Linked DNA regions of Homo sapiens: all the other regions are linked to region 4. Evidence: fine-mapped expression QTL. A gene starts in region 4. Each other region holds a variant in brackets. All regions are shown on one strand. Distances are between the middles of the regions. Region 1 overlaps ALPK1 (alpha kinase 1). Region 2 overlaps ALPK1 (alpha kinase 1). Region 3 overlaps ALPK1 (alpha kinase 1). Region 4 holds the start of ALPK1 (alpha kinase 1).

What was found.
Region 1: its variant is fine-mapped to the expression of ALPK1 in whole blood (TOPMed, PIP above 0.99).
Region 2: its variant is fine-mapped to the expression of ALPK1 in whole blood (TOPMed, PIP 0.96).
Region 3: its variant is fine-mapped to the expression of ALPK1 in whole blood (INTERVAL, PIP 0.94).

The regions. Positions count from the first base shown.
Region 1 is chr4:112,426,112-112,434,304 of GRCh38, reverse strand. ALPK1 (alpha kinase 1) reads right to left here. Exons shown (of 16, transcript NM_025144.4): 8 at 7,762-7,838; 9 at 6,640-6,735; 10 at 5,052-5,156; 11 at 1,724-3,857. Among named protein-coding and RNA genes, the nearest start is that of NEUROG2-AS1, 85 kb to the left of the region's middle. The variant G/A (reference allele first, on the strand shown) is at 5,046.
Region 2 is chr4:112,383,613-112,391,805 of GRCh38, reverse strand. The region is part of intron 4 of ALPK1 (alpha kinase 1); the gene reads right to left. Among named protein-coding and RNA genes, the nearest start is that of ALPK1, 90 kb to the right of the region's middle. The variant A/G (reference allele first, on the strand shown) is at 4,478.
Region 3 is chr4:112,340,009-112,348,201 of GRCh38, reverse strand. The region is part of intron 2 of ALPK1 (alpha kinase 1); the gene reads right to left. Among named protein-coding and RNA genes, the nearest start is that of ALPK1, 47 kb to the right of the region's middle. The variant C/T (reference allele first, on the strand shown) is at 4,834.
Region 4 is chr4:112,293,646-112,301,838 of GRCh38, reverse strand. It overlaps ALPK1 (alpha kinase 1), which reads right to left and starts at 4,470. Exons shown (of 16, transcript NM_025144.4): 1 at 4,370-4,470. RefSeq lists an enhancer at 4,412-4,706.

The DNA.
Region 1 (8,193 bases), 130 kb before region 4:
AGAGAAGCCGGATGGAAATGGAAGGTGAGTTGTCTGTCCACACACAGGACGGGTGATAAATTGAGAGAAGAAAAGAGGAAGGGAATCATTGTTCTGTTTCTGCCATTTTGGGCCTTGCTTCCTCTAATGTATTTCATCCATAAATTAGCAAACGATAACAAATAAGAAGAAAGCAGTTACCTCATTGTAATAAATGTGATTCCAAAATTGCAGAATCTCACAGTTAGTAAGAAAACCCTATTGCTGGAAATTTTTGCTTTTTTTTGGTAACAATGTGATTTGTATTTTAGTCGGACTTCAAGGTGGCAGGCAAAACATTGGAATACTTTGAAGCAGAAGCTCTTAACAGTGGCTTTAAGCAGAATCACCAGAGAGGTGATAAGAAATAATGATCCCTGGGTCCGCACTCCAGACCCATTAGATGGAAATCTCTGGGGTGAGGCATTGGAAGTTTTTAAAAGCTCCCCAGAAGAGTCTCATGTGGCGCCAGGGTTGAGAACTACTATTTAATAGCCAGTGCTTAGTGATCCATGTAGTTTATCTCTTCTGGGAAGTGCTTCACAATCTTTTTGTTTTTTTAATCATTCAAATCATTTTTCTGTATAGTAGGAGGGCATTTTGATGTGATTCCTGGGCTAAGAGAAGAATCTCCTTCTGTCTTCCTCCCAGCTTCTCTACCACTTTTAAGCTGTGTTAGACATTGACTACTAGGTGGCTCCAGCCCAGGCTTCCCGCTTTGGGCAGTGACATTGGGCTGTTCCTTAAGCAAGAAGTAGCTGCTGATTGCAACAGTAGGGGTACTGTAGTCTGGAAGTTTTTATCCCCCCTAAATTCACATGTTGAAGTTCTAACCCACAAGGTGATGGTGTTGGGAGCTGGAGACTTTGGGAGGTGATTAGGTCCTGAGGGGTAGATTCCTCATAGATGGGATGAGTGCCCTCATAAAAGAGATCCCAGAGAAACCCTTCCCCCTTCCACTATGTGAGGACACAGAGAAAAGGCGCTGTCAATGAACCAGAAAGCAGTACCTTCATCCTGGACTTCCAGGCTCCAGAATTATGAGGAATAAATTTCTGTTGTTCATATGCTACCCAGTTGATGGCATTTTGTTACAGAATCATGAATACAAGATGAGGATGCACTTGACCAACCAATTGGCTGGCAAGAAACCGCTTAGGTAGACAGGTGTAAAAAGTCTCTGCCCAATAGAAAGATGATATTTAACTAGGTCAAACCATGTCCCCATAGAATTCTAATGGGGAAAGATAGAGAAAAATCAGTTGGTTGGTAAAAAGACTCGAAGGAGAAGATAGATGCTGAGCAGATAATATGGTATCCAGCCTGTTAAAATCACCTGATTGGTAATGAGAATCAATGAAGAAGATAGATGCTGAGTGGATGAGACGGCCTCCAGAGCTGTTTTCAACCCTTAGTGATGGCTGTGCCAGAGTCCTCTAAGTTTCCTGTCTCCCTCACTACCTCGTGTGTCCTTAGAGCAAACCTCCAGCATGCAAGGTAGCCTGAGCAAGCTTCTTTACAACCATTAAGGTCCATCGCACAGAGTGAGGGAGACCCCTGAAGTATACATTTCTCTGTGAACTCACAAAGCATACCAGGGTTCTATACCTTTCATGAGCTTTAAGTGATCTACATACCAAGCTCTTCAGAGTGCCCCAACACAGCTGCTTCCTGAGGGGGGAACTATTGAAAAGATTGTACTTACTATGTGCTCGGTGGAGTTGACTGGGCTTAAAAACCCCCGTATTCTCTAGTCTCTGAAACAGCCAATCATGCCTCACTCCTGCCAACAGCTTTTCAAAGTCATCAGGTTGCAAGGTGCGAGCCTCAAGGATCTCTTTCCTCATCTTTCCCGGCAATGAAACCCAAGAACTCCCACTGGAATTCAGATAGGACCAAGGGCTGTCCCCCTCAGAAGAACCACTGGAAAATGCAGGTGATTTCAGCCACCACACTGAGGATGAGCTGGAGTTCTGGCTGCAGTTTAGCATGTTTCCAGGCTGATTTCCTTCCTCTGTGGTAGTGCAGTCCTCGCTGAGGACAGGGAAGAGGATGTTACCGCTTACAGAGGAATTGGGGGTCTCCGCCCTCTGACCAGGCGGCTGTCTCAGAATGCACAGTCTATGAGAGCCGTGCCCATTTGTGCAGGGAACATCCATGCTGTCGAGCAGTTGCCCCTCCTCATCCACTGTGGAGGCATCAGGGTCGATGCCCTGCTCTGCGACTGGGCCACCACTTTTTCTGGAGTCAGGATTTTGAACAGGCCAATTAGGGGTGAAGGAGCTACATGGCAGCATGGAAATGTTTCCCAGAGAATTGTGCAGGACCCTGTGAAAGTCTAAGGGTGCATCTTCAGTGCTTTCTGCTGTTTCTCCTTCTGGGTCAACCCAGGAGGGACTAGCTTTAAATGTAGGGCCTGCGCCTCTTTCACTAATTTCTTCTCCCTGCTCTTTCCCCTGCCTGTCTTTGACATCGCAGTTGGTTTCTGGAAACTCAACAATTATTTCAAAGGCTTCTTCTTTTTGGACTGAAGGATGTGTGCCCATATTCTTGGGCCTACCAGAATCAGAAGACCAAGAAGCAGAACGATATGAGGGTCTGGAGTGAGCAGAAGTATTTCTGGGTCCCATATTTCTGACTTCCTGGATACCTTCTGGAGCTCCTTCTAGAAGCCCTGCACCAGGGGCCAAGAAAATGCCTGGGGTATTATGAGGCGAGAAGGGTGTCAAGGGCATCTGTTGCTGTGGCTGATTTTGAGAAGGCTCCAAATTGTCATTGTTGGGTTCCTGAAGAGAGAGATCATGAAGCTGTGAATGCAATGAATGCATAGCTCTGCCTTCCCTGTCATTCTCTAGCTCCTCAGACAAGGCAGTGGAACACTGAGTGTCCACCAGATGTTCTTTGCCAGGCTCTTTTCTGGCTGACCTGTCGTCAACGTGATAATTCACTTCCTCCCAGCTTGCAGAGGAACTAAACCCTGATAAGTTGCTCCAAGCACTGGAAGTCTGGCTGCCACTCAGAGACTTGTTGAAAACAGCTCCCTCACCATTGCTGTAGTCCGATGGCTCAGTCTCAGTCTCCACATCTTGATCCAAGGAGACTCGAAATGCATCAGAATGGGTCCAGTTTCTCCTTCCTCCCCTTCTGAGTTCCCTCTGAACATTCTTACCCATTAGGGAGGAAGATATTCCTGTGTCTCTTTGACAATGTGGCTTTTCTTGAGTAGTACTCACAGTATCTATGTTTTTTATTTCTGTTTTTAGAGCAGTGATGCAGACTCCTGTTTTTGCATCTTTCTGTTCATTTTTGTTGTTTCCACAATCACTTTCAAATACTTCACACACCGAAGTATGGTGCTGTGAATAGGTGTCAAGGATTTTTTGGAAATCCCCTTGCCCATGCAAGATAAGTTTATCCAACCTGCACTCGAAACTCTCGGGAACATAAGATCTGTCATCTACATTTGAGAAGCTTTGAACTTGTAAATGTTCCTTCACCTGGGCAATCACAGACATAACTTCTTGAGACAGAGCTTCTCTGTCCTGACTTCTGGAGGAAGTGCTGAAATTGTACAGCTTCCCCATTGCTTCCTTACAGAGCTGACTTGCTGCATGGACCGTCCCTGTCTCCCCATGGAGCCTTCTGTGCACTGTGGTGAGACCGAAAGCAGCTTTGACAAAGCTGTGAAGCTCCTGTTTTCCAGTAACAGGCTCATCATCTCTCTTGGTGAGGAGGCCAATCTCAAAGGCCTCTTTGGCTTCACACAGATGTAAGTTTTTCAATTCTGGAGGACAGTCATTTGAACTACTGTAGGACAATAAACACGTGCCACGGATATTCTGGGAAAAATACCAAATACCAAATCAGATATTGAATTGAAAACTGCAAGTGAATCAGGACAAACTTTTCATTTCTGGAGGACAGTCATTTGAAATATTATAGAAAAATGAACACATGCCACATACATTCTAAGGAAAATATACAGGCAAACATTGAGTTAAGGACCCGAGGCCTTTTTGGTGAATCAGAAGAAGGGATGGGGATATAAGTGACTGGCTGGCATGAAGGGGTAAGAAATCAGCTTCAATTACCATCCTATTGTATCTTTGATACATTTTGATTAAAGACGATAGGCTTGTGTTTGTTGCTGTTGTTAGTTTTAACAGAGTCTATCCATGGAAATGGATATAAGTTTCTCTATGCAAATAAGGATGCCATATATGAATACATCATTCATTTAATGTCGAAACAATAGGGCATTGGTTTCCGAATGCATCTGTGCATTTGAATCACCTGGACAATATTCCAAAATTAAAGATTTTTGGATACCAACCTCAGAGATTTGCATTTAGTGGATCTAGGGTGGAGCTCAGAAATGTGTAGTATTTTTTTCTTTCTTTTTTTTTTCTTTTTCTTTTTCTCTTTTCTTTTCTTTTTTTTTTTTTTTGAGGTAGGGTCTTGCTCTGTTACCCAGGGTGGAGTGCAGTGGTGCAATCTCAGCTCACTGCAAACTCAACCTTCCAGGCTCAGGTGATCCTCCCACCTCAGCCTCCCCAGTACCTGGGACTATAGGCACGTACCACCACACCTGGCCAATTTTTATTTTTTAATTTTTTGTAGAGACAAAGTCTCACCATGTTGCTCAGGCTAGTCTTGAAATTTTGGGCTCAAGCCATCCTCCTACCTTGGCCTCCCAAAGTGATGGGATTACAGGCGTGAGCCACCATGCCTGGCAGGAATATGTATTTTGAGAAGGTTCCTTGGGTGATTTTGATGTGCACTCAGGCTTGGGAACCATTGCTTCACAACAGACAACAATCTACCCTTGGGCTGAATTAATTTAGCTCCTAGTAGGCTGTCAAAACTCCGACCAATAAAATTTTTCCATATGTGGTGTGGAGTCTTATCACAATTGCCACTGATGAGACACAAAGCCTGTTTGAAGGTTAAACCTTTCCCTTCTCACTGGTTACATCAGAAAGCACCCTGGGAGAGGTCCTGTGGGGGTTTGAGGAGCGGCTGCATTC[G/A]TTTACCACAGCTGTGAGCACGAAGAGCGGCGTATAGGCACTGAAGGCAGCTGCCAGCTTGCAGGCTTCTGCAGCGGACAGCAAATGGTGGTCAAACTCCTTCAGCAGGCTCTGTGAGAAAACAGGAGGCTAAGTGGAATGGTGATAATTAATTATCGATGAGCAAAAAACAGGCTATGAAATGGTTTTGCTTTTCTTTCATGATTTCAAGGGACTCCTCACCGCAACCCGTTCAGAACAGTGTAAAGAAAGAGTAAGTGGGTCTAAAGACCACAAGGTGTTGACTTTCCTTTTTCCCAGCAGACACACACCTGTGCAAAATAATTTGGGTGAGCTTCTTTGGAGGACGGTGGCAGTTCTTTGTTCAAAGGAACTGCACATTTTGAAGCCAGATTAATTGATTTCTGCACGCTCTTGGCAAAGAGCCCTTTAATTGATGATTTCACAGCAATTAGAATTCATTTATTAATTCTGTAAATACGTATAGAGTACCACCACATTCCAGGGCCTGTTCTAGACACAGGGGAAACAGCAGACAGTGAGCCCTCAAGGAGCTTACTTTCTGTTGTGGGGGAGGGACCAGTCAATATACAAAACAAGTAAAGTGCATAGTATTTGAGATTATGACAAGTGTTCTGGAGAGACAATAAATGGAGAAGGGGTTAGGGAGGCCCAGGATGGGAAGGAAGTTTGCAATTTTAAACGGTCATCAGGGATAACTTCAGTGAACAAGGGACATGATCCTCCTGTTTTGGTCAAACAGAAAAAGCAACATCTTAGATTCAGATTACCATCAGCAAGCTGTATGTGTTCTTTTGCTACACTAATTAGTATTGAGCATGGTTACTGTTGTGATTTAATGGTATCTTTAATAATGGGGTCTTGAATAAAAATGGCAATATAGACGATAATAAAAACTCCATTTAAGCACAGTGTGAAGAGCAGCAGAACATCCTTGTCACTTCTCTGGGCTGGTCAGAGATCTGGGCTCAGCTCCCAGTTCTCTCTCTTACTGGTTGTGTAAACTGCAGAGGTTAGTTAGTTTCTCTGCACTGCATTTTATTTTTCTCTAAAATGGAATGATACACTTTGCTCTACCCTCCTCATAGGGTTTTATTGGATATATATATACTTTCTTGAGTTGTAAAGTGATATATAAAAATTAGCAGTCATTATTATCAAGGACGAGAGCCTGGAACAAGGGACTGATGCTCTGATTTGAACAGATGGTGATTACAAAGTTTTAAAATTATTACCCCTTTATCATCAAGATGGCCCAAGTTTGGAAACTGCATTTTGTTATACTTTGAAAGGAAAGAAGTGAGGCTCAAAATCATTTTGTTGATATTCATTCATTCATTCACCAGTAACTTTCTGAGCACTCTCTGAGTGTCTGTTACAGTGCTAGGCGCTGGGATAATAAAGCCAAATAGGACCCCACAAGACTCCTCCCCAGGATTCCTCCCATTTGTCTAGGAGGCGCAGCACTGAGCTCCCTGCCTCCCAATCTCCTGAGAAAGACAGCCACTAACCAACCACCAAGGACACGATTGACAATTTTACAGGTGATGCCACTCAGTGTTATGATAATTACCAAATTAATTTGTGGATTGTTTTTAAACTTTTCATAATCGTTCTTGCTCATGGAAACAAAGATGTCTGCCAGTATACCTAGCGACGTGGAGAGGCCCTGTAAGAAAAACACAAAGAAGTCACAGATCGGGAATTCACAGTGGATTACTGCTCTCATCCATGGCCTAAAGGCTATGATTATTCCTCCATATGAACTATTTGCCTATTAATATTTTATTACTATGACATTGGAGATACTATTTTTAAAAATCAATTTTTAAAAATACTATTTTTAAAAATACTATTTTTAAAAATACATGTTTTATATCAAACATGTATATAATAATTATACATGTTTATGGGATACAATGTGACATTTTGACATATATATACATTGTGTAATAATTAATACCCTGACTTGGAGATATTTTTAAATTGGCTGCCACAGAGCTTGAAGGATCAACACATCCTAGGGCACATGGGCCTAATGTAAACACAGCTACTTCTCAGTTGGGTTTCACTGGATGATCAATACTAACTTGTCCCTACTGCTAGGCCTGAATAACTGGCCCAAGGAAGAGCTCATATCAGTCTGTATTGTAAAAGAATCGTAGACAGTAATTGCTTACACAGCTCAGGGAAATGTAATAACCAGATGTTTCAGATAATGAGACTATTCCCACAGAATTCCAGAAAATGAAAATGTCAAGTAGGAAGGCAGATGACCTTCCTCAATTTCTTGAATAAAGGTGCTATATAAACAGTTGAAGTCTTCGCCCACTCAACTCAAGAAAACTGATTTTACATATAAGCAACTTGGTCATCTCAACTTTGCTATGCAATCAAGTAAAGAGTAAATATATAACAAAACAGATAAATGAATGGACCAGTAGAGATAAATATATAAATGGACAGTTACAAATGATTATAAGAACACCATCTATGCACCAAGAGTCTAGCTGTGAGTGAGGATGAAGCAAGACACATAAGGAAGCTACTAACTGTACCTGGCCCTATGCTTGTGAAAAATAAATAAAAATAGGACAGATGAAATTGATATATGAGAAATGGACTTCTGTCATGAAGAGATAATCATCCAAAGACAAATACAGGAAAGGAGAAAAAGAAGCACTAGACAAACCACCTTTTTATCCGGCTGAGGAAGTGCCAAATATCCTACAATGGAGGCCCATATTAACTCTGCTGCTTCGTACCACATCCCTGAAAAAAAAAAGAGGGGCGGGGAGAGGGACAGGGGAGGAACAGCTAGTATCTGTGCTCTTGTATAGAGAAAACCTTTGAAAACAAATACAGAACCAAGACTCATTAGATTCTGTTAGGAAAACTTAGGCTTAGATTAGATTGACACAGCAATGTTTTTCCAGTTGTAATATAGACAATTTTTCCATTTCACTGGGAAACAGAATTATTATATATTTGTATATATAATATGTGTAATATATGTAGTTATCTCAGTTTTTTACAAAAATAATAATTGCCACCTCCTGTTAAAATTTCTCAAACCATTATTTTGCATTCTAAAGTATATTAGCATTCTATAAACTTGAAAAATTCA
Region 2 (8,193 bases), 90 kb before region 4:
TAGATGTATCATTCCTCACTTCTGGAGGCTGGAAGTCTGAAATCAAGACGTCAGTGGGGCCATGCTCTAACAGGAGCATCTGTTCCCTGCCTTTCTTTTAGCTTCTGATGTTGCCAGCAACCCTTGTGCTTCTTGATCTGCAGCTGTATGGTTCCAATCTCTGCCTCTATCATCACATGGCATTTACCCTATGTCTCTAGGTATTCTCACAAGGCCACTAGTCACACTGGCTTAAGGGCTCACCCTACTCCAGTATGACCTCATTTTAACTTAATTAATTCCATCTACAATAACTTTATTTTCAAATAAAGTCCTCTGAGGTACCGAGGGATAAGACTTTAATGCATCATTTGGGGGGTCAATTCAACCCATGATACATGGTAAGACTGTGATAATGCTAAAATTTAATTGCCTTTAATGACAAAATTGTTTTGGCAATTGTTGTCCATACTTTTTATGGCCTGCAGTTTGGCTGTAACACTGACACTCTCTTCAACATTTGTTGCCCTTCTCAGGTTGAGGGAGTAGCCCCTACCTTGTTCACAAGGCAAAGGAAAACTTCCAATTGCTGAACAACACAACGGCTCATAAATCTTCTGCTAGGGACTGGCATATGTCACTTCCAGCCACATTTCATAGACTAAGACAGGTTGTGAGGGCCTAGCCTAATATCTCCATGGGAAGGTATATTCCTTTCAGAGGGAGGCATGCAAGTCACATGGCAAAAGTGAATATGTGGGAACAATAATACAATCTACCTCAGTCTAGCTCATTCCATGAATCATGACATACCTTAGGTTGTTTTTCATAATGTCTCTTAGATATGCTTCCTCTTTCCACTTCTCTCAAGCCTAACGTTTATGCAGGACCTCACATAATCATTCTTTCCTTGGCAGTTCAGTGTGCTCCCCAAACTCAGGATCTCCCCACTCCAATTTATAATATGCACAACAAATAGCATTATCTTCTTCAGGTGATTACTTCATTTCTTTATCAGGAAACATTTAAGGCATTTACTTAAATGCCTTCCATCCCTGAGAGATACATGGGCATTATCCTCCTGACCAGTACCTAGACAATTGTCTGACTGTGGGCCACACATGGGGCAGCCTCATATATATTTCAACACACATGCACATCAAACACCATGTTTTTCAAATAACATTAATACGGTTTCATTCATCCATCCATCCACCCATCCATCCATCATCCATCCATCCAAGGGTGTTCTTTGAAGGTATGCATTTTAAGTGTCAGGGATATAATGGTGAACACAGATAAGGCCCTGACCTCATGAAGCTTGTAGCTAGCAGAAGAGAGAGACAGAAACCCCACAAACAAATGTAAACAAATGTAAAAGAAACCCCACAAACAAATGTAAACTGCAACTTTGAAAAGGTGATACCTTATAGCCAAGCCTATATTGAGGAAGTTTGATTTAGTCCCAGAGATCAGGGCAGGCTTCCCTGAGAACTGAGATGTGAGCTGAGAAGGGAAAGATACACAGAAATTAATCAGGCAAAGGAGGGAGGGAAGAATGTCTCGGGAATGGAGAGCAGCTATGTGCATGGAATAATCCCGGTAAGAGTGTGGACTGAAAGGAGGCCATGAGATGGAGATGATGCAGCAGGGGCAGCCAAGGGAAGGACTATGCCTGGCAGGGCCCATGGGCCTCATTTCAGAGTTTTGCATTCCTAGGCATACTAGGGTGACAGACTAGAGTTGTAGTTTGCACAAACACCTCTGTGCATGGAGAAGAGATGTGGAGGAGTGAAGTGGGGTAGATGTGTGAGGCTATTCAGGAAGCAATGGCAGGAGCCCAGGTGAGATATAGCTGCAGCTGGAACAGGAGTAGTGATGGGGTGGAGGGGAATTGAGGAGAGATTTAGAAAATAAGACCTACTAAGCTTGGTGATGGAATGGATATGTCAGGCAAGGGAGAGGAAAGTGACAAGAATGACCTTGAAGTTCCCAGCTTATTCTACTGGACCCTGAAAGGGGACCTTATTTGAGAGCAGGGAAGAGAGGGACCATGAGTTTCAGATGTCTGTAAGACATCCAAGAAGCACATGCCAGCTTCCCCTCCTGTGCTGTCTCAGGTAAAGGCATCACTGCCCAGCACATTGCAAGACTGAAATCTTATACTTAGTGCCCACCCCGTCTGTCCAACCGGTCACCACATGCTCTTCTGCCTTTGACAAGTAGCTCAGCTCCCTTCCTCATGCTCCATTCTCCTGATTTGCTATCTTATCTAGGGGACCTAAACAAAATACAATTGTTGCAGCCTTAGAGACACCAGACATTTGGCTGGAGCAAGGTTCTTTCTGAGACAAACTTTCATTTTCAGATCATGACAAGATCCAGAGGTTCCTGAATTAGTCAGGGCAAGAGTAGGAGCAATCAGGCCCCTGGCCATGGCTGTGACCAACCCCTGGTATCTCAACATCTTAAAAGCCAGCACAGGCCAGGCACGGTGGCTCACGCTTGTAATCTCAGCACTTTGGTTAGGCTGAGGCAGGCGGATCACAAGGTCAGGAGATTGAGCTCATCCTGGCCAACATGGTGAAACCCTGTCTCTACTAAAAATACAAAAATTGGCTGGGAGTGGTGGTGCGTGCCTGTAGTCCCAGCTACTCAGGAGGCTGAGGCAGGAGAATCGCTTGAATCCGGGAGGTGGAGGCAGCAGTGAGCCGAGATCACGCCATTGCACTCCAGCCTGGACAACAGAGCGAGATGCTGTCTAAAAAAAAAAAAAAAAGCCAGCATGGCCCTCCTTGTGTGCCCCTGAATGGAAAGAACAGAGCTGTCCATAAAGAGATGGGGAGTTCAGATTGTGACTTTGAAAAGTTACTTCTCTGAGCATTAATTTTCTTAACTGTGAAAAGGGAATTATAACCCTTCTCTTTAAGGGTTGTCGTCATAGCTTAAAGAACATAGATTGAGCAACTGCCACATATTAGGAGGTCAATACATGGGAAGAACCATTCCAATAAGCTGGACTTTGACAAGGGTTGCCCTCTGTCTTCATTTTTGTAGTTTTCCAGGACATGAATTGGGTCTTCTCTTTCTTCTGCACTTCTTTGAGTGTTCTGTCAAACATCTGGCACATGCTGACACCCAGTAAAGTTTGTTGAATGAATGAATGCAGAGTTTATCTACACTTTGTGTTTTTTTTTTTTTTTGCAACTTGATGAAAAAGATTTCTGCTATGAAAGCCCCAAAGCATATAAGATGAAAAATGATGAAAGAATCATAATCTAAACAGCACCTGTTACTGCTTTTGAATTCTGTATTACTAATATAAAAACCGGCACCTGGAATAAATGTTTTAAAATTAGTTTTAAGGACATCTTTTAATCAAGAGCTTATTCATGGAGGGAATTTTATTGTTTCCATAACTTTCTTTAACTTGATATTTCATTTCCTAATAAATTCATACTTTGCTTTCTTTTGCTAAAGTCTCTCCTCCATCCCCTGAGCTCACGAGTTAGTCACACTAGGCATTTTTAAAGCATTTTCTGCAATCTTGCAATAACCAACTCTTATATTTATTCATGTTTATTCATGTTTTAAATCTCACCCCTCTAACATCTTAAGTAGTATAAAAACAAAAATATCAACAAGTCAAAGGCACCAAGATAATACAAAGAGACATATTAGAAAAAATATTCTGACTATGCAGCCATAAAAAAGAATGAGAGCATGTCTTTTGCAGGAACACAGATGGAGCTGGAGGCCATTATCCCTAGCAAAGTAACACAGGAACAGAAAACCAAATACCGCATGTTCTCACTCTAAGTGGGAGCTAAATGATGAGAACTCATGGACACTTAGAAGGGAACAACACACTGGGGCCTATTGGAAGGTGGATGATGGGAGGAGAGAGAGTATCAGGAAAAATAACTAATGGGTACTAGGCTTAGTACTTGGGTGACAAAATACTCTGTACAACAAACCCCTGTGACACAAGTTTACCTACATAACAAACCTGCATGTGTAGCCCTGAACTTAAAATAAAAGTTAAAAAAATTATTGGGACTAAATTGATCAAACTTTATTCATCCACAGGGGTTTTCCACAAAATAGCATAAAGAAACAACTCAACATTTATTATTATTATTATTATGGTGTCTTTTCAAATCACTCCAGGGCACCACAGACACTTTCCAAAAATATTTACAACATCAGGGCTATCAGATTACCCATTTTTCATGGTTGTAGAGTTGAAAAGGACATGGGAAAAAGAATATCCTCCTTCTGAGCCTGCTTCATGTCCTCAGACTGTGCTTTTAGTGCCAACCTATAAAAATGATCTTGTATCTCCGTGAGTGGGCACCACAGTAAATCCAGGGCTGACTGACAGCAGGCCCCTCCCTCCACAGAAATAAGCCAGTCTCCCTCCAGCATCAGGACCCCCAAACCTGTGCAGGGAATGTTCAAACTCAGGGCTATCACACAGCTCTTGGCCTTGCAGCCC[A/G]ATCTGCTCCCACTTGCAAATCCAAACACACCCTTTACTTTACTTTTTGAAAGCTTTACTTTCATATTTTATTTTAATTCACTAGACATTTTTTGTTGTTGTTTAGAAGAGTGAAAACTACAGAAAGAAAAATTCCCAAGGTGGCATCCACGTTGAGTCCTTCCCCGGCATCTCAGCAGCAAGTTAGCATTCTATGGGTTTTCCTAGCTAGCACTCCACCGCCATGGCCCAAAGCTGAGCTAAACAGAAGCTAACGCTAAATGCCTTCAATACTTTTTGAAAAATCCATCAAAGGTTTTGCTGAATGATATTTATAAGGGCCTTACTGTTCTCTTTCACAGACTGAAATGCCCTTCTCCGACACTTGAAAAAAGTTGCTCATGCTTTTCATCTTTCCCTCTCAGAGTGTAAACATTGTTTTGAGTGAAAAGAGCTGAAGGAGCGCTTACTTTCCCTTGAAATTTTATTTTTAAATAAGAGAGGGAGAAAATCCTTTTTCTGACTAATACTAATAATACAGGTCAAAGTGTCAGGCGATATACAATTAAATGGAAAACAAAAAAGGTTCCCCCTCTTTTTCCCACAGTACAATGGTGCTGGAATATAAATTACCGATGAAGATGAAATAATACTTCAAAGCCTATAGGGCAGGGCAGCTCGGTGTTTACAAAGTATTTTCTATGGCACGATGAGACATTAAAGATGATGGTAACCCATGGACTTGAGGGTGTTGCTGAATAGACTGAAACTAGCATGAGGTAGGATTTTAGGTCGCCGTAGCCTGTGACCCCGTGATATGCTTTGTTTTACAAGGGCAGCTGCAGTTATCAACAGATGTTTCAGCAATAAATAATTGGTATCATCTCGGAAAAGACCCATCTACCTAGGGAGAGGGCATAATACCAAAAACACTGCCCAGCTATTACAGCCACATTAATCTCCCATCTCTTCAGGTTTCTTGGGGAGCGTACTGCAGGTGTTTTTTCTGGGAGAGCGCGGACAAACTCTCTCAAGTCAGCAAGCTTTGTGTGGAGTGTAAAGGAGGTTGGCCCCTGCCATAAATTTCTGTCTGTGGCCACACACCAAAGGAAAAGGGATTGGAGAGTCAGGGAGGAGGGGAGGAGAGCAGTGGGGAGGGAGGAAATGGGAACACAGTGGAGACCAGAAAGCAAAACACAAAACATGTATCATTTTTCTTGGTTAAGTTCAGCCCAAGAGAATAACATTATAAATGACTCTTAATTTTACCAACTCATGAACTGTGGAAAACAGTTGTTTGTGACTTGCCTTTTTCTTAAGCATTCTGTTCTCAACTTCGATCTGTTATTTGTGGAATTAAAGACACAGTGTTTATGCTCTGAGTACAATGCTTATTTGAAAAACAGAGGGGAAACATTTTATGGGAAGGATTCATTTCAAGGTAAAAAAATCACAGAAAGTTTATATTTATGAATAAACTATAAAAAGAGAGAAAACATGAAAAGACAAACTCAGTAATCTTTAAATATTTTTTACATGAGAATGGAATTTCACAATTAATCAGTTATTAAAATATGACCATCCAGCTCTGACAAACTCTAATATTGAAATCGACCAGATTGGGATACAATGAAACAAAAACAAATCATGGAATTTATTCAAACTATTTTTAATAATCTAAGATATTAAAAATAGATTTTAGGAGTGCCTGACTTACAGGGTGCTATGGTTCTCCATATTTACAAAACAGAGTGGTTTAGCAATTGTGCACTTGGGGTCTGGCACAATAGGAGAACATCCTAAAAGTCATTAGGAGGTGCGGTTGCTTAATTTATAGCTTGCTGGGCAAGCTAAAGAAAATGATGCTCAGAGTTCAAAAAGCTGCCAGATTAAATACATTAGAGACTAAAGAAGGCCTAATAGACAGCGCCCCTTAGAGCTGCTACTGAGTGACCTTGTGAGCTGGGCTCAAACTTCTTAAATTCTCTATGCTTCTATTTCTCCAATTGTGAAATTTGTGTAGTATAGAGAGGCATAGCGGGAGGTATCATAAGTGGGCTCTTAAAATAGTCTACTCCAACTATGAGCAGCTTCTCTCCCAACTCACATTAAACCCCCAGTGCAGCGGGACTGATGTTTTTAATGATGTTTAAAACATCGTTTTCAGTTTTTAAGCTAATGTCACTACCAGCTTTGAATGCAGGGCTCAGGGGATCTGGTGATTGCAGGATGGAACAAGGGGAGTAAACCCCAGTTATAGTGATGTGCCACATCACTCAGCCTATGTTCAAAAGTCAGAGAAACCTGCTAAGCCCAAAAGTCAAAGCTGAGTCACTCCCTCTTGTGAGGCCGTTTTGCTCTCGCCTTCCTTGGAAGGTTTGTAAAGTTCTTTTATGCCACTAGGCTAATTCCACAAGGGATCTCCAAGCAAGTAAAGTGACCATCAGCTTTTGCAGAAGGGCTCCAGTCTAAGCAACAGTTCCCAGAATTGATGGAAAAGAGATTTTTTTTTATTGGATTGGTCTCCTACAGCCTTCTCACTGGATTCTCCTTACTCCTTACCTTGACCCTCTCCACTATATCCCCATTCAGTCTCTCTGCCCTTCCCCCTTGCTTGCCACTCTACTCTTTCCTGCAAACAGTGGCTCTCAAACTTTAGCATCAGAATCATCTGGAGGGCTTCTCTAATGCTGATTGCTGGACTCCCACCCCCAGGGTGTTTGATTCAGTAAGGGTTTTTGATTTGCACCCAAGAATTTGAATTTCTGACCAGATTTCAGATGATGCTAATCTATTGTTGGGAGGTCTCACATTTATAGCCACTGCTTTAGAGCTGCACTGTCCAATAAAATGGCAGCCCTGGCCACATGTGACTATTTACATAGAAATGAATAAAAAATAGCTAAAATAAAAATTCAGTTCTTCGGTCCCATTCACCACATTTCAAGTGCTTGAGAGCCATCTGTAGCTAGTGGCTACCATATTGAACACAGCTGTAGAACATTTCCATCATCAATACAAAAAGTGTTACTGGATGGCCTACAGCTTACTTTAGATACAATAAGTAAACCTCATGGCTTCTACCTGTTTTTTCAAGCTCTTCACTTGGTGCTTCCTGATGGAGAATTGGAGTTGGATGAAGGAGAAGGCTGTAAGTCACAATTTCACCACTTACTGGTCTGTTCTTCCCCTGAGCAAATTAATCTCTTCGCACCTTAATTTCCTTGTTCAAAAGAGGGATGATAATGGTAATACAGGAGAACCCCAACTTAACAATTGTTCAACTTATGATTTTTTTACTTTACAATGGTGTGAAAGCAATATACATTTAGTAGACTACAACCATTCTGTTTTTCGCTTGCAGCACAGTATTCACTAAATTACACAAAATATTCAATACCTTATTACAAAATAGGCATTATATTAGATGATTTTGCCCAACTGTACACTAATGTAAGGGTTCTGAGCTTGCTTAAGGTAGGCTAAGCTAAGCTATGATGTTTAGTAGGTTGGGTGTAGTAAATGCATTTTTAATGTATAATATTTTTGACCTATTATATTTCCAACTTATGATGGATTTACTGGGGGCAACTCCTTTGTAAGTCAAAGAGCATCTGAATCACTCTGTAAAGTGTTACAAGCACTTTGTAAACTCTATAGTGATAGTTAAGTTATAGTTATTATTTTATTCTACTTTTCCACTAATACTGACCACATTTATTTAAAACCCTGGCTCA
Region 3 (8,193 bases), 46 kb before region 4:
AATGAGCACAGTTTTAGACTTTCAGGATTCTACACTTTCTGTAAGAGTTATGTGACTGAGTGAAATGCGGCTAAGTTGCAGAGCAAATGTGCTCAGAACGCCAATCACCTGGCTTAGGGGATGATTATTGTTTTTGAACCACTCTGCTTACTTTCTTTGGTACCTCTTCAAGCGGAAGAACTCTCATTTTCTCCTTTCTCTAATAAGGAGGATGGCGATCTGAGACTTAGTGTTAATTCTATTCTTTGCTTTTAGCTAATGAAGGAATATTTGCCAGTATAGAGCTAACAGTGTGATACAGGAAATTTTTAAAAAATAAGTAAATCGAAATAGGCAAGTGAAACATATTAGCTTTTACACAGTCTATTACTGGCAAAAAATAATTGCTTGCTTCCTGCTCTTTCCTTAAAGCTTGGCTTTCATAGCTAACTTAGAAGTTTAATGCATCAAATAAGATGCACTGTATCTGTAAACTTCTCAATGGTATTTAAGCATTTACTGAATATCTGTTGTATACATATTTGGTATTTGGAAGGTTACCAGAGAAACAGAAGAGATATTTTCAACCCACAGAAACAACTTCATTCGAGAAGTAAACATAATTATATAATTCAACTTGTAAAAAATTCCAAAGCAACATTCTGACCCACAGGATGAGTTTACTTAAATTTAGGAAAGTTGGAGAATTCATTCCATCCTTCCTACTATTATACTACTTAGAAGAAAAGGTATTTATTATTAGATCTTGACAAAGAAAATTGAATCGGGTTGATGATATGACTTTTATAAGATTACAGTGAGGAAGGTAGCAAGGAATATGGTTCCCATTTGAAGATTAAGTCAAAAGTTCAGTGATTTGTCAAAGTTCAAATAGCAACTCATTAAGATTACGTGCCAGAAGTTAGACATAAGCTTTTAAGGCCACTGTGGTTTTATGTGAGACCACTCTGTGTCCTGCTTTTTGTGGGGAAGAAACTGATCATCATACTGACAAGCAGAAATCATTAGTTTAACAGAATGTTGATTCTATGACAGAAAAGTATATGTAGTTTATTTAAAGACACGACTCTTAGGCTTGATTCTCAAATTTTAAAACACTGAAACAGCTACTGCTATATTTTTCCTGGGGAAAAAGTATCCTAATTTGACCTTATTCGAGCTACAATATAAGTCCAGAGGACCAATGAAGGGGAAGAAAAGAACTGATGAGGTCTAAGTGGTGATTGCATTTATAGATTAATCCTGACAGGAAGCAAATACATCTCCTCCCAGGAGGCCCCAGTGTAGTCAACTGAGAAGTGGGGTCGTTATTTATGAGCACAGTGGACTCTTCCCATTACAATAAACATTTTAATTACTTTAAGTGAAAGATTATTTTTGCTGGTAGGAAGCTTAAAAAGTAAATACTGTACTGTTGTTTGTTTTTCGATGTTGGCTATGTGTGTAATCTTCTATTCTTAAAACTGTTTCACACAGCAATTTGTCTTACCCTGAAATCATAATGGGAAAATAGTATATACTTAAGAAAGCATTTCACATACCAAAACCTGCAATGCCCCACATGGGGAAAGAGTAGGCCAAATGACTGGTTGGCATCATGGACCCAGAGCAATTTCATTTCCATCTGTTTTATATGATGGCCATCCACATACAATTTCATTGACACCAATAAGTTTGGAAAACACTTATCCAAATGAATCAATGAAGATGGAGTAGGAACATAATGATGGTGTGATTTTTATTTTTCAACAAGGTGACACATTCTCATTCTAAAAGTTACTACCACATATCACAAAACGTGTCAACCATATAAATCCACAATGAATGTCGTTAAGAGTCCTCATGAAACTGTTGTGTTATGGAAGCAAAACAACTAATTTGTAATATGAGACTCAAATAATGAATTTCCTTTCTTAAAACTCAAAGTCCCATGATTTCTGACTGATAATATATGATATAATAAATGATATTAAAGAATTAGTGTTAATTTTTAAGGTGGGATAAAAGTAGTGTGGTTATATTTAAAAAGAGTTCATATCAGCTGGACGTGGTGGCTCACACCTGTAATCCCAGCACTTTGGGAAGCCCAGGTGGGCAGATCACCTGAGGTTGGGAGTTCGAGACCAGCCTGATCAACATGGAGAAACCCCATCTCTACTAAAAATACAAAATTAGCCTGGCATGGCAGCGCACGCCTGTAATCCCAGGTACTCAGGAGGCTGAGACAGGAGAATTGCTTGAACCCGGGAGACAAAGGTTGCAGTGAGCCGAGATTGCACCATTGCACTCCAGCCTGGGCAACAAGAGTGAAACTCCAAGAGTTCATATCGTTTAGGGATACATTCTGAAATACTTAGAAATGAAATTATATGGAGTCTGAGATTTGTTTCAAAAGAATTTGAGGCATGGAGCTGGGGAGAAATTAAAGATGTAAATTAGTCAAGGTTGGCTATGGACTATTAAATGTTGAAGCTACATAAGAGTACATGAAGTTTTTACATTGCTCCCTCTACTTTTGTAACAACATATTCGAAATTTTTAATAATAAAAAATTTAAAAATTCTCTTTTGAGGACCCCAACAAAAAGGAATGGTCTTGATGAATTTTGAGAGGCAGCAAGAGACCGTTCTGAAATTATTTGAAATCTCCTCTTCCCTGGTTTAGATAACCAACAAAATTGGGCTTCGGCCTCCCTAATATGACCACTACTCTGCAAAATGAAGCTACTGCTTTATCCAATTCTGTAATTAAGTCCAGATTATGCATATTTGGAGTATCTGCTTACTGTGTTGCCAACAACACATTGTATTTTTAATCAGGGCCCCATTCCACCCACATCCACATCATGTAATGCTTCTAGGTTACTGTGCCTCATTGTCCTGTTAGTATGTACTTAGAAATCACAGCTGAACTTTAATATTATCTTAAGCAAAATACAAACAAAAAGTTAAATGTGGTGCAAAAATAATCATACCATATACTTCAAAGCCATTAGTATGGGTAAATGAGCACTGTCTATAAAAACACGAGAAGCACGCCCCCTATTAACACTGTCTTGGGAAATCAGAGGCTACAACTCTGAATGAGCATGGCAGCCATGCCTACTTTTACCGAAACCAACACACTTCTATTATTCTACTTTCTACAGAATTAAAAAATTAAACAGCTGACAACAAAAATTCTAAACAGTGGGAAAGAAAATCTCCAACTTCATTGATCTTTAAACATTTTTTAAATACGAAAAAGTAGTCTGGTGAGTTGAATGCTTAGAGGTTTTGAACCAAATTAACTAACATTTTAAATCTGTAATTTGCTGTCACAGGTACCACCAAAAGACAAGGTGGAGAGGGAAAATTGCTATTGGTTAAATACTTTCTGTACTTTAGGTGCTATGCTGTGCACCTCAGACACAAAACTTTGTGATATTGGCTTTATGATCCCCACTTTAGAGATGAGAAAGTTGAGGGTCATGGAGGTTAAGTAACTTTCCCAAGGTCACATACTAAACAAGGTGTGTATTCAGAATTTCCAGGAGTCTTTGACCCCATGAATGCTTTTAAAACCATTTGCCTTCCAGCCTACTTACACAGTCCTGAATATTTCAAAATGTATCAATACATTGAAAGATGTAACCCAAGTCCTTTTTAATGCTCTTAGACTTCCAATAAGATAATTCTATGAATTATTTTCTATGTATATATCACATATGTCTTCTTCCAATTTACTGATGAATCAATTTCTACCTAGCCTGATCCAAATTATCAAACTCCATACTTTAACTATACTAGAAAGAGACAGACAAAAAGTCAGAAGTCTAATTCAACTGTTCAGTCCCACTATTTTCACATTGGAAAGATCATTGCTTACAACTGAGCTCTCCCTAGACTTCCACTCGCAGCAGTTCAGGCTGGAACGTGCTCTCCTGTCACACTGTCTTCTCCAAGTGCGAGGGAGTTTTGTCTAGTAAGAGATAATTAAAGACATGGCAGTGCCACTTGCTAGGATTTCACTCTTTCTCTTTTACTTCTTATAAAAGAAGAAACTTCAGTTTAAAGATTAGATTTTTTCCCCGCTTTTCTAAAGCTGGGTATACCAACTGGCATCGGCTGTATTAAAATCAGGAGAAACCTCAATCAAAAAGCCTCTCTCGGAAGGCAGGCTTTCTTGTTAATATGCACCAACATGAAAGGCTTTCTTTTCATCCTATACAACTACAGTGTGTGTAAATTGCAGGGGGCTCATTGGCATAAATCTCGCCTGCGACCTCTGAGGTAAACTGGATTTACATTACTTTCTGACAAGAATTAAATGAAGGCCTTGTGGATATATGAACAGCCTTCTAGGCTGCAACAGATGGGCATGAATGTGCTCCCTAGGAAAACTATCAGTGACATCTGTGTCCTCCAAATTCTGGTGGTCTCAGCCAATTAACGGGGGTAGGGGGGAGAAGGGGGGGAAAGGGTGGGGGTTGGGAGGCCACAGCACAACCCCCAGCCAAAACCCAGGCAGAAGTGTTTGTGTTTGGAGATGGGATCAGGCTGGCCTGCAGCAGCGAGGTTAGCACTTTATTGTTATCATTCAAATGGAGAATGTGGCTTACAAGCTATTTGTATACCACAGCGAGGATAATATGATTTTTCTCATTTGACCGGAGGAGATGGCCCTCTCTTGCAGCTGATATCATATTTCAGTGCATTCTCTTTGAGACGGGTATTTACTTTTGTCTCTTCCGAGGCAGGCTGAGGGTGTTGCTGTCTGCCAGTTTCTGTAGTGCATTCACTAGTCACAAAGCAGGTGAACTCTAAGACGACACAGAGATCTTTCCCCAAAACA[C/T]TCTCCTTCATAGTCTACTTCTTTCTTTCTTCAAAATGGCATTTACTGATTTCACCAAAAATTAAAAAATAATCAAAATCAAGGTTTTCTAGTTAAAACGAAGTCAAGAGAAATGACATCAGATATCTTGAATGAAGTGGTGGAGGAGTCCTTCAAAGGATACGATGAACCGTGAACCCCACTGTCTGAATTTACCAGGTCTCAGCACGTCAGTCCCTGTGTGTTTAATGTGCAGGCAGGAGGAAAACTGGAGAAGCCAGGACAGAAGATAAGATTCCTCTCTGGCCCCTCTCCTTTGCTGCAATCTCTTGGCCCACTTGCTTGGACTGTGTAGGGCAGGAGACCAGGACTGGGGAGCTGAAGGGATGGAAGGGGAGAGAAGAACTAACATTTACTTGTTCTGTACCAGGAGGAATCAGGAGAAGCGTATGTAGGTATTCCAGGTCCCATGTATTCTGGGCCCCAGCAATAAGAGCAGAGGCTTTGGATCTAAAGTACCCAAGTCTGAATTCTAGCTCTAACATTTACTGGAATATGAGAGAATGGGCAAGTTGCTTAATGTCTTTGTGTCTCACTTTCTCATCTGTAAAATTGAGCTAACAATTGTATCTACTTCTTAGTAAGGATAAAAGTACATGACATATAGAAAATGCTGGCTGTTTTTATCCAGAATTTACTGTGGATTGAAGGTCCATGGATAGAGTCCTAGACCTCTAAACTAGTTAGGCAAAATGAAAGGCATTGTGTTATACTAGCTTTTGAAAATTCAGAAAAGTGATTTTTCAAAAGAAGCAATTGTCATTGCTTTTAGGAGCCTGAGGTCATGCTTTAAAATTACATATTTTCTTTAATATATAAGATTTTGAAATTCTTTGCTAAAATAGTAAATATCAAAAGCATCTAGATCATTCTAAATTATAAAGTAGACTATCAAGAGGCAAGTAACATAACATTTAGACCAAAAAAATGAAATTAAGGTGTTTATTTTCACCTCCTTTTCCTAATTGCAGGAGTGGAAATGAGTAGCTTGTTCTGTCCTAAATTGGTTATTACATGTGAAGTTTTAGGAGACAATTGCTAATCATGATAGTTTGGATGTAAACTGTACACCCCTTTGTCCTAGGTGTTGTTTAAAACATAGTAATTCCACACAACCATTGTGTACAACAGCAACAACAACAAAAGGAGGACAAGTGGACCTTCTAAACAAGTGGCCTACTGTCTAAGCCATAAATGCTCATAGTGCTATTTTTAAAGTACATTTTCACACAGGAATTCTTATTCTCTTCTTCTCTGTATGATTTTTTTAATGATTCAATTCTAAGAACTTTGGCAAGCTGAGTTTCAGCACAATGTAAGCTTGCTTCTAGAGGAAGTCAAATTGTTGGTCAACAAAGAAGTCTCTTGCTCTTTCTCCACAGAACTCCTGCGCTGGCTGGAGAAACCTGTGGCCTCAAAGGTGAGGGTGAAAGCAACTGTAGGCACAATTTTTGTACACGCTATGACTTATTATGCTGTAATACCAAACGTAATTTTGTCTTATTCTCTTGGCACCGATATCATTATGTTGAGCAATAAATAGAAGAGAAGCCTTTGTCCACACAGGGATTCAGAAAAGAATCAACACTAAACAAAAGCACCTGTTGTTTCGTTCTTGTAATGACCTCAGAAGTGACCAGTTGGCTGCATTCACCCCACACTCCTCCTTAGGCTTTGCCCAACACTACCATCTCGCACATCATTATTGGACGTAAAAGGAGAATAATTGAGGAGAAGATCAATAAATTTAAAAGCTCTTTAAAAAAAGACATAATGAATTTGGTACAGCACATATTTTTAGATCAAAGATGGCTTTGAAGTGACAAAACCCTAATCTATATACTACTGAAGCACTTCCTTTCTCTCCCAAACTGCCTGTTGTCAAATAAAATGGAAGTTAAGGAAATTATCTTTATCTGAAAATGGCCAAAAGAAGCCATCACCTAATGACAGCCTTGTCACAAGCGACAATTGGGGAAATTGTCAGGAAGGCAAGGCCTAACGAGCAGCAGAGTGGGCTTGCTGTTTGCACTAATCTGGCCATGCAGCCCCCACACACAATCCCAGTCAGCTTGCTGTGTGAAACAGCTAAGGCTTTGTCAGTGTTAACAGGGACTGGAAAGAACACGCTTTCATGAATATGTATTACCATCCCTCTATGTCTACAGAGACAAACCCTTCAAAACTGAGATATAAAACACACACGCACACAGACACACACACCACCGACCAACAAAAACCAAGAGAACCTAAGCTACTTGGTTGAGTGTAGGGAAATGCTAGTAACTAAGCACCCAGTTCCATGTGTTTGCTGGGATCTTTATTTCCCAGCAATTGAGATAAAATCTTTAGGGGGCTTTCAATCTTTGGGAACCACGTGCGTGAATTCAAAGATGCTACACATCATTACATGGACTGCAAATCACACATCTTACAGTGAATTCACTTTCCTAATACCAAATGCGTTCTGAAATTCTAATACTAAAATGAAAATAACTTTGATATCTTAACTAAGTGCATGTGCAGTTTTAAAAAACTGATCAAATCTCATACCGACTTCCTATGAAGTAGTAAAAGCACTATGTGGAAAATTATGAAGATGTAGCATTTCCCAACATTGAGTAGAAGGACATTGCTCACGCACAAAGTGGAAATCACAAATAAGAAATTTTCAGGTGAAAAGGGTTGAGGGGGGAATCTACTCTGTAAGCCCTTTGTAATCTTAATAACAGTGTTTAAGAAAATCCATATTATGTGTATTTTTTTCTTCAGAGATAAATGATTTTACATCCACCCAAGGGCATAGATCTAGTAAGAGATTTTTGAGTGACTGAAATTACTTTTTCTAATAACATTGAAATTTAATTTAAGTATAAATACGTATGTGTATGCATTTAACTTCACTTTTTTTTAGAAGCAGATACATAGGACAGAAAAGTATAAGGTTATTTCTTTTTTACTTTTTTCTGATGTAATAAAGTTTGGTTTCCCACCGTGCAAGAGACAAAGCTCAGTTTTGAAGGTTTTCTATATTACGCAATGTTTGCCGTAGACATTTACATTTCATTAGCATATTCTGCTCTACATGAAATCCAGCATTGAATGCTCCCAGCGCACTAAGGCTAATCCTCTTTAAAGAGCTACAGGCTATATTACATGTGGCCACAGCAGCAGTCTTGCCATCGCTGCATCACTTTGAAGACGATGAACAGAGTTCTCTTGTGTGTCTGTCCATACCCAGACTCATAAACCACTGCTTTCTGTGCTGTGAAATCCTTCTGTTTTCATCAGGGAGAATTACAAGGAGGCCGAAATCCAAGT
Region 4 (8,193 bases):
AGAACTTGCAATGAGCCGTGATCACAATCACATCACTGCACTCCAGCCTGGGCAGCAGAGTGAGACCCTGTCAAATAAATAAATAAATAAGTAAATAAAATGTGAGACTGCTGATACAGAATATACGGTATCTTCTGTATCCCATGTATCAAATGCCCCAGAGGATTTCTCTTCCTACAAGTCTCTATCACAAGTGCTTGTTGAACATTCTGGTGAGAACATGTGCTTGGGAATAAGGTGATCAGAGGTCACTTTACTGAGTGAAAATATATTCAAGGGATGTGCCCCAAGAAGACCCCACAGAGAGCTAGAAAGAGCAGAAAGCTAGAAGGAGAGCCTAACCTTATCTACATAATGGTGCAGGAGTCTGTATAGCATGGAATTAACACAGTAAGGGCGCTTCTAACAGTTGCTGAGCTGCCCTGGCAAGCTGCGCCTTCAGAAGCCTAAACCAAGTTTCTCATGTCCCAAGGAAGAGGGTAGGTTTAGAGTAACAGGAAATCTGGGCTCAAAGGTCTTCAAATGTTGCTTATTGAGTAACCTGCAATCTTCAGAAGTGTATGTCAAACCTAATACATTAATATATCAAAAGAGATGTTACCACTTACAGTTTATTATCTTTCACAATAATTATTTGGGGCATGACCTCAGGGAAGAAAATTTCTCGGTAATGATATAGTTATCTTGGAAAATGATGACGGGCTGACCAGCAGTGTCCAAACTTTAATTAGAGCTGAAGTTACTGTGAAGAAATGCCAACTAAAAGGACACATGATGAGGTTCTAAATTTTTTTTTTGTAGAAAAAAAGGTAATTATGAATGGACAAGGCTTTTGCTGGCAATTCTGCAGATATTTTGGGTGCATATTATGCACTGATGGAGAATGCACCACAGTAACCAGATGTGCTGGGGTTAAGGTCAAAGCAGTGCTGGTGAGCCAATGACACAGTGCATTTTGAGGTGCAGTAGGAGTATATACAAAGACATGACAAAATTGAATATAAGTACAATATGTGCAGATATAAATTACTAAATCCAAAATATGGAAATCCATAAGAACAAGAAATGAGTTAAGAGGTTATTTGCACACAGGTCAGGCCAAATTTCCATTCCCCCTTCCCTGCCTTTTTTTTTTTTATCTTTAAGCCAAAAGAATTATTAGACTGAAGTAAAAGCTACAGTTGACAGAGAAGCAATCAACACAAGAAAAATGAACCAATAGTAAGTGTTTCAACTGGTATTTCCTTCTCTGTTCACTGACTCCGCTGCACCTGTTTGTTCCTAGCACTGAGACTCCGTCCTCTCTTCTTTCACATAGCTGGTTATTTGTATGCCAAATAAAAAGAAGGAAAAACTTTTATCTTCCAAAGCTGCATAGTTTTATTTACTATATATTATTAGCAATATAGTTCTATTTAATAAACTATATTTGTTTTCTCAAAAAAGATATAAGTATATTATATAATAATTTAAAAATTTTTTGTAAGAATATCATGTTATGTAGAAAGAAATAGAAGGAAGGGAAAGAATCTATCACTGTAAGACAACAATCACTTTTAGAATATTTCTGAATTTATATCTATACCATTTTATGTAAATACTTGCATGCATACAAGTTATTCAATCCTGAGTCTGTTTTTCACTTAGTATTTTCTGTGCTGGTACTATTTTTTATCCTATCATGTTTTATGGGTACAGTATCTTTTGCTTAACCTCCCCCTTTTATGAGAATGCTTGCAATTATTTGTTATTACGACTTTATGATGAACATGTTTGCGAATTTTTCCCTTGTCTAGAATTATTTCCCCCTTAGGATGGATTCCCAGAAATGAAATTATTGCATATAGCCATTGGCACATACTATGACCCATTAGTAGCCCTTGATCTAGATAATGTTTAAAGTCCCCCCTGGCCCCTGAGTTCAGAAGTTCAGTGAAACAAGCAGAATGAACCTGTAGTATTCAAGCTGAGACATTTCACCCTTTCTATCACTCTTATTTGAAAAAGTATTGGCTATCTTCTGCATCCCTTCAATTATATGATAATTTACGAGGAAATATAATAGTTTATTAGGCTACAGGTGTGATAAACGTTTGATAAAATATTTCTCTGTCAAATACTTTGTACATCTATACTTAGGAAATTGAACAGATTGCATTGTCAACTGAGCTCTGTAACCAAGGCCCAGTAAAATTCAAAGATACTGCACTGGCTAAGAAAATATCCACTTCTCAAATGCATTAGTGTAGCATGTCTGAAACTTTAGCCATTTGCATGCCATCTTCATAATTTTTGCCAAATCTGCAGATTACCTGTAATATTATTTATTTAATCATTTCCTTAAAATCAATAGTAAATTAGCTCAACTTCTTACTTAACACTTTCCTGAACAACAGTATTCATGAAATTCTAGGTTTTATAAGCAAATTATGTTAATTTATATTAAGCTAGCAAATAACTCAAAATTTTGAAGTTTAGACATGTACTGCCTAAAATCAGTAGCATGTATACCATACTTAGGAAAAGTTGTATTTGTATGTATCTGATATTTAAGTTATAATCATCTCTTCTTTTCTTCAGACATAGAAGAATGATAGCACCAGATAATATTCTTTCTTTTAAGTTTGTCTATCCCACAGTTCTCTATAAATAAAGCATATTACAACATTCTGCAAAAACAGTTGTCACCATCAATAACAAGAAACAAAGACTCCCCCATATAGAGAGGCAACAAATACAATACAAAATACAAAAAAAACAAAAATATGGAATATATTTTCACCAAAAGTTTAAATGCTCATTCCTTTAAGAGTTCTTCAATCCATAGATATTCAAAATTTCAAGAAAGAAAATCATTTACAATGAACAGCTTATGCCAAAAAGCCATCATTCTCTGCAATAGATTAGAGAATAATAAAAGCAATTCATGCCTTGTGTTCATGGGAAAGGGATCAGTAAAATTGTTTGGAATAGAAGGAGCCATGGAATTTCAGAAATATCTTGAAATGCACAAACTTATTCTTAAGGAAAACTTCAGGCTCTAAATCCAAACCTAGATCACATGGCACTTGCTGGGAGGTATTGTTACAGCTTAACACATCAGCAAAGCTCATCACAGTATTATTATATATGATAATGCCTAATATCCATCATAATTTACACATGCCTTTTCTTTACAGTTTAAAATAGATTTTGAAAAGTTTAAAGTAATTATTGGCTTCCTACTCATGCAGATAGAGATGCTATACAATTTTGGTGTCTTCTTGGCGGAAGAAATTTGAGAGATTCATCTCAGATTTAAAAGATCTTTGATATGGGGAATAAGTTATTTCTAAAATAAGTTTAAGTATTTTGTTTCTCTTGAGGCTTGAGGTTGATGGGGTGGGAAGGAGGTGGGAAGAGAGAAGTAAATTGTTTCGGTCAGCAGACAAGGACTGGACTTGACATTGGTTCTAGAGACTAGAGTGTATCCCAAGTGCATAAATTATACCCCAAATTAAATGGATATTGTTTCTTATAAGAGAATTAGTGGCACAAAGTAAAAAGAAAGTAAAAGGGAGAGAGAGAGAGACAGAGAGAGAGAGAAATATATATCGCAAGCAGAGATGCTATTATATTGTGGCATAAAGTCCTCTCCTTCCTGATCCTGCCTGTTTGTACCCTCACCCATCCTCAAATCCCAAACCATCTTAAAGGTTTTAATTTGTGGCTTTTCAAAGTACTCTAAAGTACTAATTTCAAACACTAGAATTTTTTAATTAAAGGATTTTTCTAAATAGACATGCAAAGGAATTTAATTTTTCTGGATGCTTTGTCTCTAAACAATGCTTCCACGCACTCAGAATTCCCGTCAATTCACCCATATGAGACGAGTAAGTCTCGTGCCTTATCTACCTGTTTCCTAGCAAAATTACTGATGCTGTCATAAAAGTGGTAGTTTCTATTATTACCTATGTATTCCAGGCAAAAGTCATAGAGTTTTTTTTTAAACAAATAATCCTAACAATCCTTTAATTAAACATCTCAGTTAAGTGACAAGACCAGAAGCTCAGTGACTTAAGAAACTTGTTATTAAAACCTTATGAAAAACTGGTTTGCCTTCTCCCCTTCATAATGACTACAGTTTACCATTGTAGGTAACTTTTCCCTTCTCTCCCTCCCCTTCCCCACTCCACCCCCTTCACCCCACCAACTCATCCTCCCCTTTCTGGAAAGTTTCTATTATAGAAGTGCAAAGGTTCTTAGAGCTCTAAAGTTATTTAAATATAAACAAGATCAGCAGATGGAAACTGAGTCAACACTTAAGACAAATACTTCCTCATATATTATGCCATCTACTGCGTTTTGTCATTTAAAGGATGATACTCACTTTTATCTTAAAGAGGAAAAGTACTTTAAGACCAGCAAATCTAACTCTGAGCAGAGTTAATTCTGGTACAGCCTCTCTGAAACACACTGTTTCTCATAAACGGCTTCAGTTTCAGGAAGTAGGAATTAAAAAAAAAAAAACAACCAATCCTGTGACTGTCTCAGAATATGGTTGTGTAATTCAATTCCGGGACTTTCAGCAATCTTGCACCATAAGACACACCCCTTTAGGAATTGCTTCGGTGAAAGGTATTCTGGGAGCTGTATTACTACAGAAAAGTTCCTTCTCCTAATGAAAGTGCAAGAAAAACTTATTATTTAGACTAAGAATGGAGAGTCCTCTTAGAGCCAAGAAGAGAGAATGTCAGTAAGAAACAATGAATATGACATTGTTGAAATCTGTTAGCAAAAGACAGATGCACATTAAGGCTTCATTCTGTGCTCTGTCTTAGAAGTGAGCTTGTTATCACAGAGACACATATATTGCTGAACTGGAAAATAAAGTTAGGACTTTTTGGATAGAATATCTGATTAGGCTGACTAGTTTGACAGTGAAAAGTGTCTTATTGAGTTACACAGTGGACATTGTCCTTCCATGGAACAACTGAAATCTGCAACTCGAAATTTTGACAAAAAAATCAAAAGTACCTAAGATTTCTAAATGTCAAAATATATTTTATTGGAAAAGTTATTGACATAAACAATATTTTAATTTTCTCAATCCTTTTTGAGCCTGCTGGGTTAAAGAAGTTTCCTCTAGAGTGAAGGAATAATAGGTTTTATTAATAGTCATTTGATACATTTTGGTAAAGCCTTTGGTATACTTCCTAGAAACTGAGAGAGTGAAGGACTCCAAAAGCTGGGTCATAAATGCTTTGGCAAGTCAATTGTTTACAACAAAATAGGAGGAAATAGTTGAATAGTCAGTTGCTCGATCACTTAAAACACATTTTTTTTGTGTGATAGATCGCTATGTAATGTTTAATATATGACCTTAGAAGTTTAAATAACCAAATGGCATTGCTATAACAAAATTCTATCTCTATTTATTTATGTAAACACAGTTCCTCTCCTCTTCCATGTGTATATTTTTGTGGAATGTTGTTTTATTCCAACTATAAGTAACATTCAGCTGTGAATTAATTTTTTAAAACTCCAGAAATCTTATGGAGAAGTGACACTTGAATAAATTTTATCACTTAATATTCATCAAAACGTACCATTTTATTTTTGTCTTCTTCATCAATTATGAATCAATACTTGTACAATTCAATCTTTAAGAAAGTTTAATACTTAGAGTCTATGGTCACAGAAAACAGAAATGTTTAATTTCTTTTTTCTTTTCTATTTTTTTTTTTTTTTTTGAGATGGAGTTTCGCTCTTGTTGCCCAGGCTGGGGTGCAGTGGCACAATCTCGGCTCGCTGCAGCCTCTGCCTCCTGGGTTCAAACGATTCTCCTGCCTCAGCCTTCCGAGTAGCTGGGATTACAGGTGCCTGCCAGCACGCCCAGCTAATTTTTTGTATTTTTAGTAGAGGTGGGGCTTCACCATGTTGGCCAGGCTGGTCTCGAACTCCTGACCTCAGGTCTGTCTGCCTCGGCCTCCCAAAGCACTGGGATTACAGGTGTGAGCCACCACACCCAGCCAGAAAGGTTTAATTTCAATATATACTTTTTTTGAGAGACATGTTGCCCAGGCTGGAGTGCAGTGGCATGATCTCTGTTCACTGCAACCTCTGCCTCCTGGGTTCAAGCGATTCTCCTGCCTCAGCTTCCCAAGTAACTGGGACTACAGGCACCCGCCACCACGCCCAGCTAATTTTTGTATTTTAGTAGAGACAGGGTTTCACCATATCGGCCAGGCTGGTCTCGAACTCCTGACCTCTGGTGATCTGCCTGCCTTCGCTTCCCAAAGTGCTGGGATTACAGGCTTGAGCCACTGCACCCGGCCTACATATTTTTACTGTAAAGAAATATGACAAAAACTTTCAAGTATATAAACTGTTTTATACTAGGATAAACTTCTATGGATGAAGTGAAATGAAACAGAAGGTTACGGAAATACAGGAATGATATAAAATTTCCAATTGTTAAAAAAGATTTGTACATGTGTCTTTATTTTTAAATTTTTTAAATTTTAAACTTTTTTGAGATAGGGCTGTCACCTGGGCTGGAATGCAGTGGCACAATCACAGCTCACTGCAGCCTTGACCTCCTGGTCTCAAGTGATCCTCCTGCTTCAGCCTCCCAGGTAGCTGGGACCACAGGTGTACACCATCACACCTGGCTAATTTTTGTTTTTGTTTTTTTGTTTGTTTGTTTTTTGTAAAGACAGTGTTTCTCCATGTTGTCCAGACTGGTCTCGAACTCCTGGGCTCAAGTGATCTACCCATCTCAGCCTCCCAAAGTGTTGGGACTATGGGAGTGAGCCACTGCGCCCAGCCTGTACATGCGTTTTTAAATGGATGATGGGGAACATCAAATCACTAGGATATAAAATTTGTGTTGGATACATTTAAAAGAGTAATGTATGAGTTATGTTTATTCAACGTCAGATTTAGACCCTTTGTATCTAAAGTTATAATGAAAGATGAATATCGACTTTATGTGAAGGAATTATTGTCTTTGCAAAATTCTATTTGGGGGTAGGGGAGCAAAAATGTTGGAAATACAGTGTTTAGGATGAAGGGCTGTACATTTCAGAGCCTAAAAAAGGGCACTGTACACCTGAGTATGGAGAGAAAGGCAATGGCACTGATAGAAGAGGAGGGATCTCATAGGAGATATTATCTTTCTTACAGTTTGGACAACAGTCAGATTGTCTTCAACAGGGATTCCTGGTAAGATCCTTAGAGTCATGTAAAACACAAAGACAAAATGGCTCATTTATAATCCAGTGGTGAGTTTTAGTAAGATTTCAAAGATGGAAGTTTCATTACACAAATTTCAACTATTTTAAGTGATTGAGATGTACACCTATATAAGGAATACATTATGACACGCAGGAAAACTGGCTGCAGCATCATACTCATTTTGATTTTCTAGGATTTATCATCTTGAATATAAAATATAAAATGCTGATACAAGCTGACATCATTCGTTCATCTCAATAACATGTTTAGGGAATCTTTTGTGTCAAGTGCTACATTGGTGCTACAGATTCAGACTGTGCACACAAGCAATGCACTTAAGGCAATCACAGTGACTGATGGATTAGTAGTGATGTGGCCAGAAATTAGTTGGAAAAAATTGGCAAGAGTTGGCTCATAATAGGAGGTCTTTGTGTTTCATTTTAAGGAGTTTGGATATTTATATTGACAACATAGAAAATTTGGGCCAGGCGTGGTGGCTCACGCCTGTAATCCCAGCACTCTGAGAGGCCGAGGCGGGCGGATCACGAGGTCAGGAGTTCAAGACCAGCCTGGCCAAGATGGTGAAACCTTGTCTCTACTAAAAATACAAAAATTAGCTGGGCGTGGTGGCGGATGCCTGTAGTCACAGCTACTTGGGAGGCTGAGGCAGAGAATTTCTTGAACCCGGGAGGTGGAGGTTGCAGTGAGGCAAGATTGCGCCACTGCACTCCAGCCTGGGCAACAGAGCAAGACTCCATCTCAAGAAAAAAAAAAACAACAGAAAACAGAAAATTTCAAAGAATGTAAAATCATAAAACTGTTTTAGAAAGAATACTTACTGTTGTGGGAAGGTTGGAGTATGGAGCAAGGTTCATGCAAGGGAGGGATCCTGGTGGTGGGTGGATTAGGAGGCAAGACTGGAATTAGGAAAATGAGTTAGAAGAGTACTGCAGTATTGTAGAGAGAAGTGATGAC